3 linked regions of the Homo sapiens genome follow. The protein of the gene in region 3 purifies or fractionates together with the protein of the main gene of each other region. This does not show direct contact. Each region holds a gene or a part of one and is shown on either strand. Other genes may lie near its edges.

What was found.
Region 1: the proteins of GNA15 (region 3) and MLF1 purify together in Homo sapiens (affinity purification with a luminescence readout; one large-scale study listed by IntAct). This does not show direct contact.
Region 2: the proteins of GNA15 (region 3) and MNAT1 purify together in Homo sapiens (affinity purification with mass spectrometry; one large-scale study listed by BioGRID and IntAct). This does not show direct contact.

What each region holds. Positions count from the first base shown.
Region 1 is NC_000003.12:158,591,694-158,595,352, forward strand, and holds part of MLF1 (myeloid leukemia factor 1), read left to right. Parts: intron 1-740; coding exon 741-888; intron 889-1,688; coding exon 1,689-1,733; intron 1,734-3,659. UniProt on the Homo sapiens protein: Involved in lineage commitment of primary hemopoietic progenitors by restricting erythroid formation and enhancing myeloid formation.
Region 2 is NC_000014.9:60,737,605-60,741,263, forward strand, and holds part of MNAT1 (CDK-activating kinase assembly factor MAT1), read left to right. Parts: intron 1-3,659.
Region 3 is NC_000019.10:3,152,985-3,156,643, forward strand, and holds part of GNA15 (guanine nucleotide-binding protein subunit alpha-15), read left to right. Parts: intron 1-2,033; exon of another isoform or gene 2,034-2,191; intron 2,192-2,838; coding exon 2,839-2,968; intron 2,969-3,659. UniProt on the Homo sapiens protein: Guanine nucleotide-binding proteins (G proteins) are involved as modulators or transducers in various transmembrane signaling systems.

The sequences.
Region 1 (3,659 bases), on a different chromosome or scaffold from region 3:
GGGTCAGTAACTGTCCAACTGGAACAAAGTTGGGAAACCACTGTGATAAGGTAAAAAAAAAAAATTTAGGTTCTTTAATGAGACTTGTGATGAAAGGGTAAATATCAGATTATAGTGTTGGTATTTTTATGCAATATGGGATAAATAAAGATGTTTTTTTTATTATGCATTAAATGAATTATATTGGATAACAGTAACAGGTTTTCATTAATTTTATTTATAACTACAGATGCTTCTCAACTTAACGATAAGATTACATTCCAATGAACCCATCGCAAATTGAAAATATTATACATCAAAATGCATTTAATACACTTAACCTACCGAGTATCATCAGAACATACACATTAGTTTACAGTTGGGCAACATCATCTAACATAAAGCCTACTTTATTATAAAGTGTTGAATGTCTCATGTAATTTATTGAATACTATACTGAAAGTGAAAACCAGCATGGCTGTATGGATCATTGAAGTACTGTTTCTCCTGAATGTGGAGTGCTTTCATACCACAGTAAAGTCAAAAAACCTTAACTTAAACCATTGTAAGTAGGGAACCATCTAATAATGGATCTTTATGAGATAATTCTATTCTATTTATGAATAAAATAGAGTTCTCTTCTACTCTTCTTTTATCTAACAAACATATTAGCCCAAAATAATTATTTGTAATATTTACCTGCCTACTTACTATTTAAACTCCAACACTGAATCTTTCATGATTATGTATATTTTCAACAGTGAGTCCATTCTTGCACACCGAGAAAATATGCGACAGATGATAAGAAGTTTTTCTGAACCCTTTGGAAGAGACTTGCTCAGTATCTCTGATGGTAGAGGGAGAGCTCATAATCGTAGAGGACATAATGATGGTGAAGATTCTTTGACTGTAAGTTCTTTTTTTTAAGACAGTTAGTGAGAAGGCCCTGTAGGAATTTGAAGAAAAGTATTACAGAAGTATATATCTATAATGATAGGATATGACTAATATTCTTGTTCTAGAAATCACTATTATATAAAAGGGGGGACCTTTGGAAAGGTGAATCCTGAACAGTGACTTGTCAGCTATATGGAATTTCACTGTGCTACCAAAACTGTTAGGTCCATAGAAGCATATATTAGAAGCAAAACTTAAACCATTATTTTTTATATTTATGTATACATTTCTCACCTTATAACTTCCTCTGATATCTGAAATTAGAACAGGCAAGGAAATATCCTTTCTCTCCCATACTCATTGTTTTAATACTTGAAAATAGTATCAAAAGCTACAAAGGATTGTCTTTATTGGACCAGGAAACACTGATCTTCTATATGGTTACGTATGGACCTTCAAAGCTTAGATTAACCTTTGCTTGTATCTCAAAAGCCTTACAACTGAAATATATTTTCATATGTCTTGCCTTAGAGCAAAGCTAGAGGTTACAAACATACTCAACTAAAAATTAAAAAAAAAACAGGATATTTATATATTGTAACCATTTTCTTTTTTGCCTCTTTTATTTCTTTTGCTTTTTCAGCCTCATGAATGATAGTTCTAAGATAACAAGCCCTCAGGGGTTTCTATAAAGATGAATCTCAGCAATTGAAATGTAGCAATTTGAAATTCAGTAAACATTTAATTGGTAAATTGAGAAACTTCTATATAATAAATGTCATAATCAAATGAATTGGATATTATTTTTCCAGGCAACGAGTTGTTCTCTTGTGCCTTTTGGCGATTTTGGTGGTATGGTTCGTATCTTAAGACACAAATCATTTTAGCAATATTTTCTGACAAATATTTATTTTTCATTAACTCAAGCTGACTGAATTGGCATGCAGCCTCACTTCCATAATGGCTTTTTAATGTTTGTACTGAAAACCTCTGTTTCAAGTATCAGACTTACCTTAGAAAGTTTAGGCACATGTTTCCTGAAGTAAGTCATTTCAACATATATAAAATTCATCTTCAAAAATAAAAAGTAGATTTTATTGAATGAATATTTGCTTGATTTACAAAAGGGATCCTCATAGTTGTGTTTGAAAGTTGGGGACTTCCACATGCTTATGATTACTTTCCAAAAGGTTTTTTAAAAAGTACTAAACTGTAGATAGATAAGCACAACGTTTGGAAAAGCACAGATTAACTGCTTTCTCTAGGATTTTGTTGCCACCTTGCCCAGGCAGCTTTTTCTTGTCTGTTCTTAAGAATGGCCACTCTGCAACCAGCGTTTCTACCACCTGTTTCTTAGGGTTTTTGTGCTGTGTCTGTGATGCTAGCTTCCAACACACTAAAAGCATTCTGGGGAGTAGCAGAAAATAACATGAATTTGGAACATTTGTATCTACAGTCTCATGAAAACGGTTTTTTTTTAATTATTTTGTGCTACAATTGAATCATTTGTTTCCTTGAAGTTTGGCATACAGGTATAACATTTATCCCTCCTGACCAGAGTATTTAGTAAGACAAATAACAAAAAAAAGCAGTTATAACACAGAGTTATGAGTAAAATGATCAGGAAGTTCAGCATGCTATGGGAGCACAGATGGAAAAAAGCACCTTTTGAGGTGGGGTGGGTCAATCCAAGTAGACTTCTTGAACTTTAAGGATTAGTAGAAGTTAGCCAGAAAAGGAGGGAGGGGAAAGGAATACTGTTCAACAGAGAGGAAACAGCATGTGCAAAGACCTGCAGGCTAGGGAGCTAAAACATGTTTAGTATCACTTAGCCCTGGAGTATGAGTTGAACAGTAGATACTGATGAGGAAGAAGAGGTAACCAGAGACTTCTTTAGACCGTAGAAGGAGAGTAAACATCATCTTAAAAGCAGAGGAAGCAGTGATGACTTACGTCAAAGTGGTAATAGAGTCATATTCTTGAAATATTAGAAGAGACCATAGTGGAGGCAGGGAAGCCAGAAGGCTGTTGAAGCATTCTTGGTAAAGTATTAGTGATGGCTTACTTCTACTAGGTAATGTCTGTGGTGATAAAAATGAATTACCTCATTTGAGAGAGAGTTAAAAGGGCGAATGGATGGAACTTGGTGATTGACAGGGTTGAAGGAGCAGTAGAGAGGGAGAAGGGAAGTATCACACCCATTTTTCTGGCATGAAGAATAAGGTAGATGGGAATGCCACTGAGATAAGGCATTGATTCAGTACAGATACAGGAGTGAGGTGGTCAAAACAATCATTTTAGTTTTGGATGTTTGGCATTTGAGGCATCTGTGAGTTTTCCAGGTAGATTTATCTGGTAAACTGTTGGATATATGGATTTGAGCTGAGCTAGAGATAATTTATTCATTCATTCATTCCGCAAATATTTATTAAACCCTCTTAAGTGCCAGGAATTATTATATATGTATTGGGGATATTGTAGTAAATAGACAAAATCGCCCTGCCCTCAGAGATTATTTTTATAAAGTGGGAAGATAGACAATAAACAACAAAATAATTTCAGATAGTCACAGTACCCTGAAGATGAAACAGGGTAATGATACAGAGATGGGGGGAAGTGAAGGAGGGATTAGACAGGTGACCAGCGGTGGCCTTTCTCAGGTGGTGATACTTGAATCATGAGAAGGAACTAACTAGGTTTAAAGTCAGGAGGAAACATTTAAGGAAGAAAGAGGAGAATGTGTACAAAATTTTTGAAGGCCTTAAGGGCCCACTGAAGTCTCA
Region 2 (3,659 bases), on a different chromosome or scaffold from region 3:
TATGTCTTTGAGCATTTAGGCCAGTATATCATAAGATATAACAGGTAAAAATCACAAGGTAATGTCCAGTAGTAGAATTGTTGGGTCAGAGTTTGTGGCTTTTAAATTTGATAAATATGGCCCAGTTGTTCTCAAAAAAGATTATGTCAAGACAGGCATGGTTGTTCCTACCTGTAATCCTAGCTACTTGGGAGGCTGAGGAGGGAGGGTTCGAGACCAACTTGGACAACATAGGGAAACCCTATCCTTTTTTTTTTTTTTTGAGAAGGAGTCTCGCTCTGTCGCCCAGGCTAGAGTGCAGTGGCGCAATCTCGGCTCACTGCAAGCTCCGCCTCCCGGGTTCACGCCATTGTCCTGCCTCAGCCTCCCGAGTAGCTGGGACTACAGGCGCCCGCTACCACGCCCGGCTAATTTTTTTGTATTTTTAGTAGAGACGGGGTTTCAGCGTGTTAGCCAGGAGGGAAACCCTATCTTACAAAAAAAAAAAAAAAAAGATCTTGTCAATTATGTTACCAACAACTGTATGGAGATTCCTATTGCCACACAACTTTGCCTATATTGGCTAATATTATTTTTTAAAATCTTGCATTTTAAAAGATGTTTAAAAGCATCTTATCAGATGCTTTTCTGATAAGAAAAACATCTTGGATTTTTTTTTTTTTTTTTTTTGAGACGAAGTTTTGCTCTGTCACACAAGCTGGAGTGCCGTGGCATGATCTAGGCTCACTGCAACCTCCACCTCCCAGGTTCAAGTGATTCTCCTGCCTCAGACTCCCGAGTAGCTGGGACTACAGTCGCATGCCACCATGCCCGGCTAATTTTTGTATTTTTAGTAGAGACGGGGTTTCACTATGTTGGCCAGGCTGGTCTCGAACTACTGACTTCGTGATCCAGCCGCCTCGATCCTCCCAAAGTGCTGGGATTACAGGTGTGAGCCACTGCGCCCGGCCTGAGATGGAGTTTTGCTCTTGTTGCCCAGGCTGGAGTGCAATGGCGTGATAGCTCACCACAACCTCTGCCTCCCGGGTTCAAGCAGTTCTCCTGTCTCAGCCTTCCGAGTAGCTGGGATTACAGACATGCGCCACTACCTCTGGCTAATTTTGTAGTTTTAGTAGAGATGGGGTTTCTCCATGTTGGTCAGGCTGGTCTTGAACTCCCGACCTCAGGTGATCCACCCGCTTTGGCATCCCAAAGTGCTGAGATTACAGGCGTGAGCCACCGTGTCCAGCCTCATTTTGGCTCTTAATGAAAAATTTTTTGATAGTTTGTTGAGTTTTTATGGCATATATTTCATGGGATTGAATATAGGCATTTTTATAATATGCTTGTTAGTCTGAGAAGAGCAGGTATTATTTTGCTGAATGATTCTGGCTCGGTCTTAGGATGTTGTAATCAAGTTGTTGGCTAGGACTGCAGTCTAGATTTGACTGGGCCTGGAGTATCTGTTTCCAAGGTCACTCATGTGGCTCTTGTCAGGAGGCTTCAGTTCCTCCCCATGGACTCTTCCATAGGGCTACTTATGACGTGGCTTCTCCCAGAACTAGTGATATGAGCGGAGGTAAGGAAGATTGGAGAGATGGATGGGAGAAGAGAGAAAGGGAGGGAGGAAGGGAACTGGAAGCTGTAGAGCCTTTTAAAACCTAATGATAGAAGTGATATACCATCACCTCTGGTGTTTTGTAGTGTTATAATGTGGGAGAGTACACACAAGAGTGTGAATACCAAGAGTGTGAATATCATTGGGCTATCTTGAAGGCTGGCTTCCGCAGGATTTTATTAACTTATTTTTTTTTTTTTCATGTCCTCAAGTAGCAAAGACTTTTTGGAGGCAAGTGATAAAGTGAGTAGGAGTAGTGCTTCATAAAAGAGGAACTATAGGGTTATGGAAAAATTAACTAGGAGTTTTACTTATGGGAGAAAATACAGGAGCAGAGAGGAGAGAAAAGAGGTGAAACATTATTAAATACCTTTGTCTCTTAGCTGCTAGCAATTGAAGAAGCATATTTCCCTACTTATCAATTTAATCTAGCAAATGCACAAATGAATTGATTGTATGCATATAGAAGAAGATTGGATTTCATGTTCTTTTTTTAATTTTTTCTGTTCAAGGATGAACATTGTCTCAATTACAGAAAATGGTAATTTTTTTTCTTTATCAGGCCACCTATTTCAAGAAATGGGCCTTCCATTCTGAAGGCATATAGAATTAGATGGAGGCAGTGGTATCTAATTCTCATTTAACTACAGCCTTTAATAATTTAATTTCTGTCTGGGTGCAGTGGCTTACGCCTGTAATCCCAGCACTTTGGGAGGCTGAGGCGGGTGGATCACCTGAGGTCAGGAGTTCGAGACCATCCTGGCCAACATAGTGAAACCCCGTCTCTACTAAAAATACAATAATTAGCTGGGTGTGGTGGCATGGGCATGTAATCCCAGGTACTTGGGGAGGCTAAGGCAGGAGAATCACTTGAACCTGGGAGGCAGAGGTTGCAGTGAGCCGAGATCACACCACTGCACTCCAGCCTAGGCTACAGAGCAAGACTCCATCTTAAAAAAAAATTAATTTCTATCCCAACCATTCTTGGCAAAACCTGTCTCTGGAAATTTTATGTGCTAAATCTACTTTTTTCATCACGCACGAGACGCAAAGTACAAGATAAGCAAAATCAAGTACCTACCATCTTGATATATAAAGGCAATGTTTTGTGATAGTTACTTAACATCTTTCTCTTTCTTTTTTTCCCTTTTTTTTCTGTTCTCCTATTTCTCTCTCATTTACTGATGTTACTGGATAGTTTATCCTGAAGAGTCCGAATTTTGCTTATTGCATCTCTGTGATATTGTTAAATATGTTCTTCTGTTCTCAGTATTTCCTCTAAATTGTTAGTTATGTTTAAAAGTTTTATCAGATTAAGTTTGAATTTATTTGTTGATAAGAATAATAAGTGGTGTTAACTCATTTAATATACTGATCTTATTCAGTACCTTTGTGCAAATTGGGAAACAGAGCCCCCTCTGGGTAGAAAATTAGGAAAAGGCACTTATTTTAGGTGGAAGATTTAGAACAGGAACATTCTAGATATATTATTTTATAATTTTCTGTTGTGATAAGAGGATATACTCTATAAAATTTCAGTCTTTTGAAGTTTTCTGAAAGCTTGCTTATGGTCCAGCATATGGCCTGTCTTTGTGAACAATCAGTGTACATTTGAAAAGAATATACATTCTGTGGTTGTTGGGTGTAGTGTAGTATAAGTTATAAACGTGGTACATATTACCATACCCATCTTGGTTGATAGCATTACCAGATCTTCTGTATCTTTATTAATTTATTTTATCTACTCATCTTATGAATTACTCCACTATGATTATAGATTTGTCAGTTTTTCTTGTAAGTTTTGTCATACTTTATGCATTTTGGAACTCTCTTGTTGGGTACATATTTGGGATTGTTATGCCTTCCTAATACATTTCTCCTTTTATCATTATGAAATGGCCCTCTTTGTCTCTTGTAATATGCTTTTTCCTGAAGATTCTGTCTGATAATAATTTGGCACTGTCAGATTTCTTGTGCTTACTATTTGATAGTGTGCATTTTTCCGTTCATTTACTTTAAAAAAATTTTTTAACCCATGTAATATCAGTGGCACAATCATAAA
Region 3 (3,659 bases):
TTGGAAAGATGGAATGGGGGCAACCCGCTCGGGTCCCCTTCCACGCTGTGGAAGCTTTGTTCTTTCGCTCTTCACAATAAATCTTGCTGCTGCTCACTCTTTGGGTCCACACCACCTTTAAGAGCTGTAACACTTACTGCGAAGGTCTGCGGCTTCATTCTTGAAGTCAGCGAGACCGAGAACCCACGAGAAGGAACCAGCTCTGGGACACAATAGTAGTGTTAGTACCCAAGGATGACTTCTATGGGAGAGATACTTGGTCTGGGAATCTTTAAAAAAAAAAAAAAAGGAAAGATGGAAGGGAATGGATGGGTGGATGAATGGGTGGATGGATAGATGAATAGATGGATGGATAAGTTGAGGGATAGATGAGTGGATGGATGGAGTGGCAGGATGGATGAGTGGATGAATCAATGGATAGATGGATGAGTGGGTGGATGGATGAATGGATGGATAGATGGATGGATTGAAAGAGGGATGAGTGGATGGATGGATGGATGGATGGTTAGATGGGTGGATGGGTGATACATGAATGGATGAGTGGGTGGATGAGTGGATAGATGGATAGATGGGTGGATGAATGGGTGGATGGATGGGTGAATGAGTGGATGGATGAATTAATGGGTAGATGGGTGGAAGGGTGATGGGTGAATGGATGGGTGGGTGGATTGGTGAGTGAAGGATGGATGGATGAGTGGATAGATGGATGGGTGGGTGGGATGGATGAATGGATGGATGAATGGGTGGGTGAATGCATGGATGGATGGGTGGATGAGTGGATGGATGGATGAATGAATGGGTAGATGGGTGGCAGGTGATGGATGAATGAATGAATAAATGGGTGAATGGGTGAGTGAAGGATGGATGGATGAGTGGGTGAATGGATGGATGAATGGATGAGTGGATGGGGGTGTGGGTGGGTGGATGGGTAGATGGGTGGACGAGTGAGTGGATAGATGGGTAGATGGATGTATGAGTAGATGGATAATGGGTGAACAGATGGGTGGATGGATAGATGAGTAGATGAAGCGATGGATGGATGGGTGGATTGAGTAAATGGGTGGACAGGCAGGTGGATGATGGATGGATGAATAGATGGGTAGATGGATAGACGGATAGATGGATGGATGAGTGAATGAATAGATGGATGGGTGGATGGATAGATGGATGGATGGGTGGGATGGATGGATGGATGGATGGATGAATGGGTGGATGGATGGGTGGATGAGTGGATGGATGGATGAATGAATGGGTAGATGGGTGGTGGGTGATGGATGGATGGATGAATGGGTGGATGGATGGGTGGATGAGTGGATGGATGGATGAATGAATGGGTAGATGGGTGGTGGGTGACGGATGAATGGATGAATGGGTGGATGGGTGAGTGGATGAATGGATGAGTGGATGGGTGGGAGGGTGGGTGGATGGGTACATGGGTGGATGAGTGAGTGGATAGATGGGTAGATGGATGGATGGGTAGCTGGGTAATGGGTGGACAGATGGGTGGATGGATGGATGGATGAGTAAATGGAGAGATGGATGGGTGGGTCGGTGGGTGGATTTCGTAAATGGGTGGACAGGTGGATGGATGATGGATGGATGGATAGATGGGTAGATGGATAGATGGATGGATGAGTGAATGGCTGGATGGGTGGATGGATGGGTGGGTGGATGGATGATGGATGGATGGATAGATGGGTAGATGGATAGATGGATGGATGAGTGAATGGCTGGATGGGTGGATGGATGAGTGGGTGGGTGGATGGGTGGATGGATGAGTGAATAAATCGATGAATGGGGTGGGTGGGTGGATAAAAGTTTAGGAGTGAAGGTAGAGGCTGGGAAATCATGGGGAAGTCTGGGCCAAGGAAGTGATTTTTAGGTGTGGCCCAGGAGTGAGACGAATGAATGGAGTGAGGGCTCAGAGGACACTGAGACCCGAGATGAGAGGTGATGCCCACAGTTCCCAACTGGTCAGTTGCTGATCCCACTCCCGTCTCAGTCTCCAGAGCCCCCTCTCGACGGCTGCTTACCCTGTCTGGCTCTGGATGTGGGGTTTGAGGGACTCTGAGGATGCATGGGAGGAGTGGGTCTCAGGGATCAGGAGACACATCCAGCAGCTGCAGCCTAACTGCTTCATCATCAGTCCCGGTTTCCCCTCCTGTGCAATGGGGCAAGTCCCTTCTTGCTTGAGGCCCTGGGCCGGGCCCGTCCAAAGCCTCTGTTCTGGGACTTCCTGAGTAACGGTTGCATCCCCAGGGAAATGACGCACAGATGGTTATCAGCGACCCACATTTCTCAGAAGAGAGAGAACAGGAAGGTGGGGGCAGGGTTCAGGCTTTTGTTACGGTGCGTGGGGCTGAGTCACAGATGGAGGGGAGGACGTGTGCTCTGGGAACAGCCCTCATTCCCATCTGTGTGGCCACTGGACATGCCCATGGCCAGCCAGAGCACAGGAGCCCCATAGCACAGATGGGAAAACTGAGTTTTGGAGATGTTTGGCAATTTCCTCCGCCGGGTCGCCCAGCCAGCACCAGGGCACATCTCAGATCTGTCCAACCTGCTCCCCTCTAATATGGGGGTAGAAAGCAGGCAGCCCAGCACAGTAGAAGCTTGGGAAAGTCCCCGCTCCTCCCTGGATCTCAGGCTTCTCATCTGTAAAATGGGCGTAAGACTCATCCTTGCCTCGCGGGAATGACATGGCAAATCCACGAGAGGCTAGCACCTATTCTTGCTGTCGCTATTATGGATCTTGGCATATCCCAGACGTGATGGGGGTTGGGGGTGTCACGGAGCAGGCTCCTGAGCTCTGAAAGGGGGCACCTCGGTTCCCTGTAGGATCGTGGACGTCGGGGGCCAGAAGTCAGAGCGTAAGAAATGGATCCATTGTTTCGAGAACGTGATCGCCCTCATCTACCTGGCCTCACTGAGTGAATACGACCAGTGCCTGGAGGAGAACAACCAGGAGGTGCGCCACCGCCTCCCTCGCCCTGCCCACTTGTTGGCCCAGGGACCCTCACCTGAGCAGGAAGCTCTGGTGCAGAAAGGGAGGGATCCCTGCTCTTGAACGGGCCTGTGTGTGCCCAGCATGGCTATGAACTTGACCCTTCAGCCTTTTGTGGTCAGATTGCAGCAACCCAAGACACAGACCTACAGCATTTGTTTGGTCAGGACCCCAGACACACACACACACACACACACACACACACACACACACACTACAGTGCACACACGCACATACACAATGCATGCACACAAACACGCACAGACACGTGCATAATACATGCACATACACACGTGCACACACGGGACACATGTACACACGCAGTGCACATGCACAACACATGCACACGAACACACATGCACCACACACATGCACACTTGCATGCACTCACGTGCACAATACACGCATATGTACACATGCGCACACACATGAACACACACATGCACACACACAGTACACACATGCACACGCACACACAGGCACACACACGCACACACAGGCACACAGGCACACACATGCGTGCACACACACATGCACGCACACGCACAGGCTGGAGTGCAGTGGCGCGATCTCGGCTCACTGGAAACTCCGCCTCCCGGGTTCACACCATTCTCCTGCCTCAGCCTCCGGAGTAGGTGGGATTACAGGCACCCGC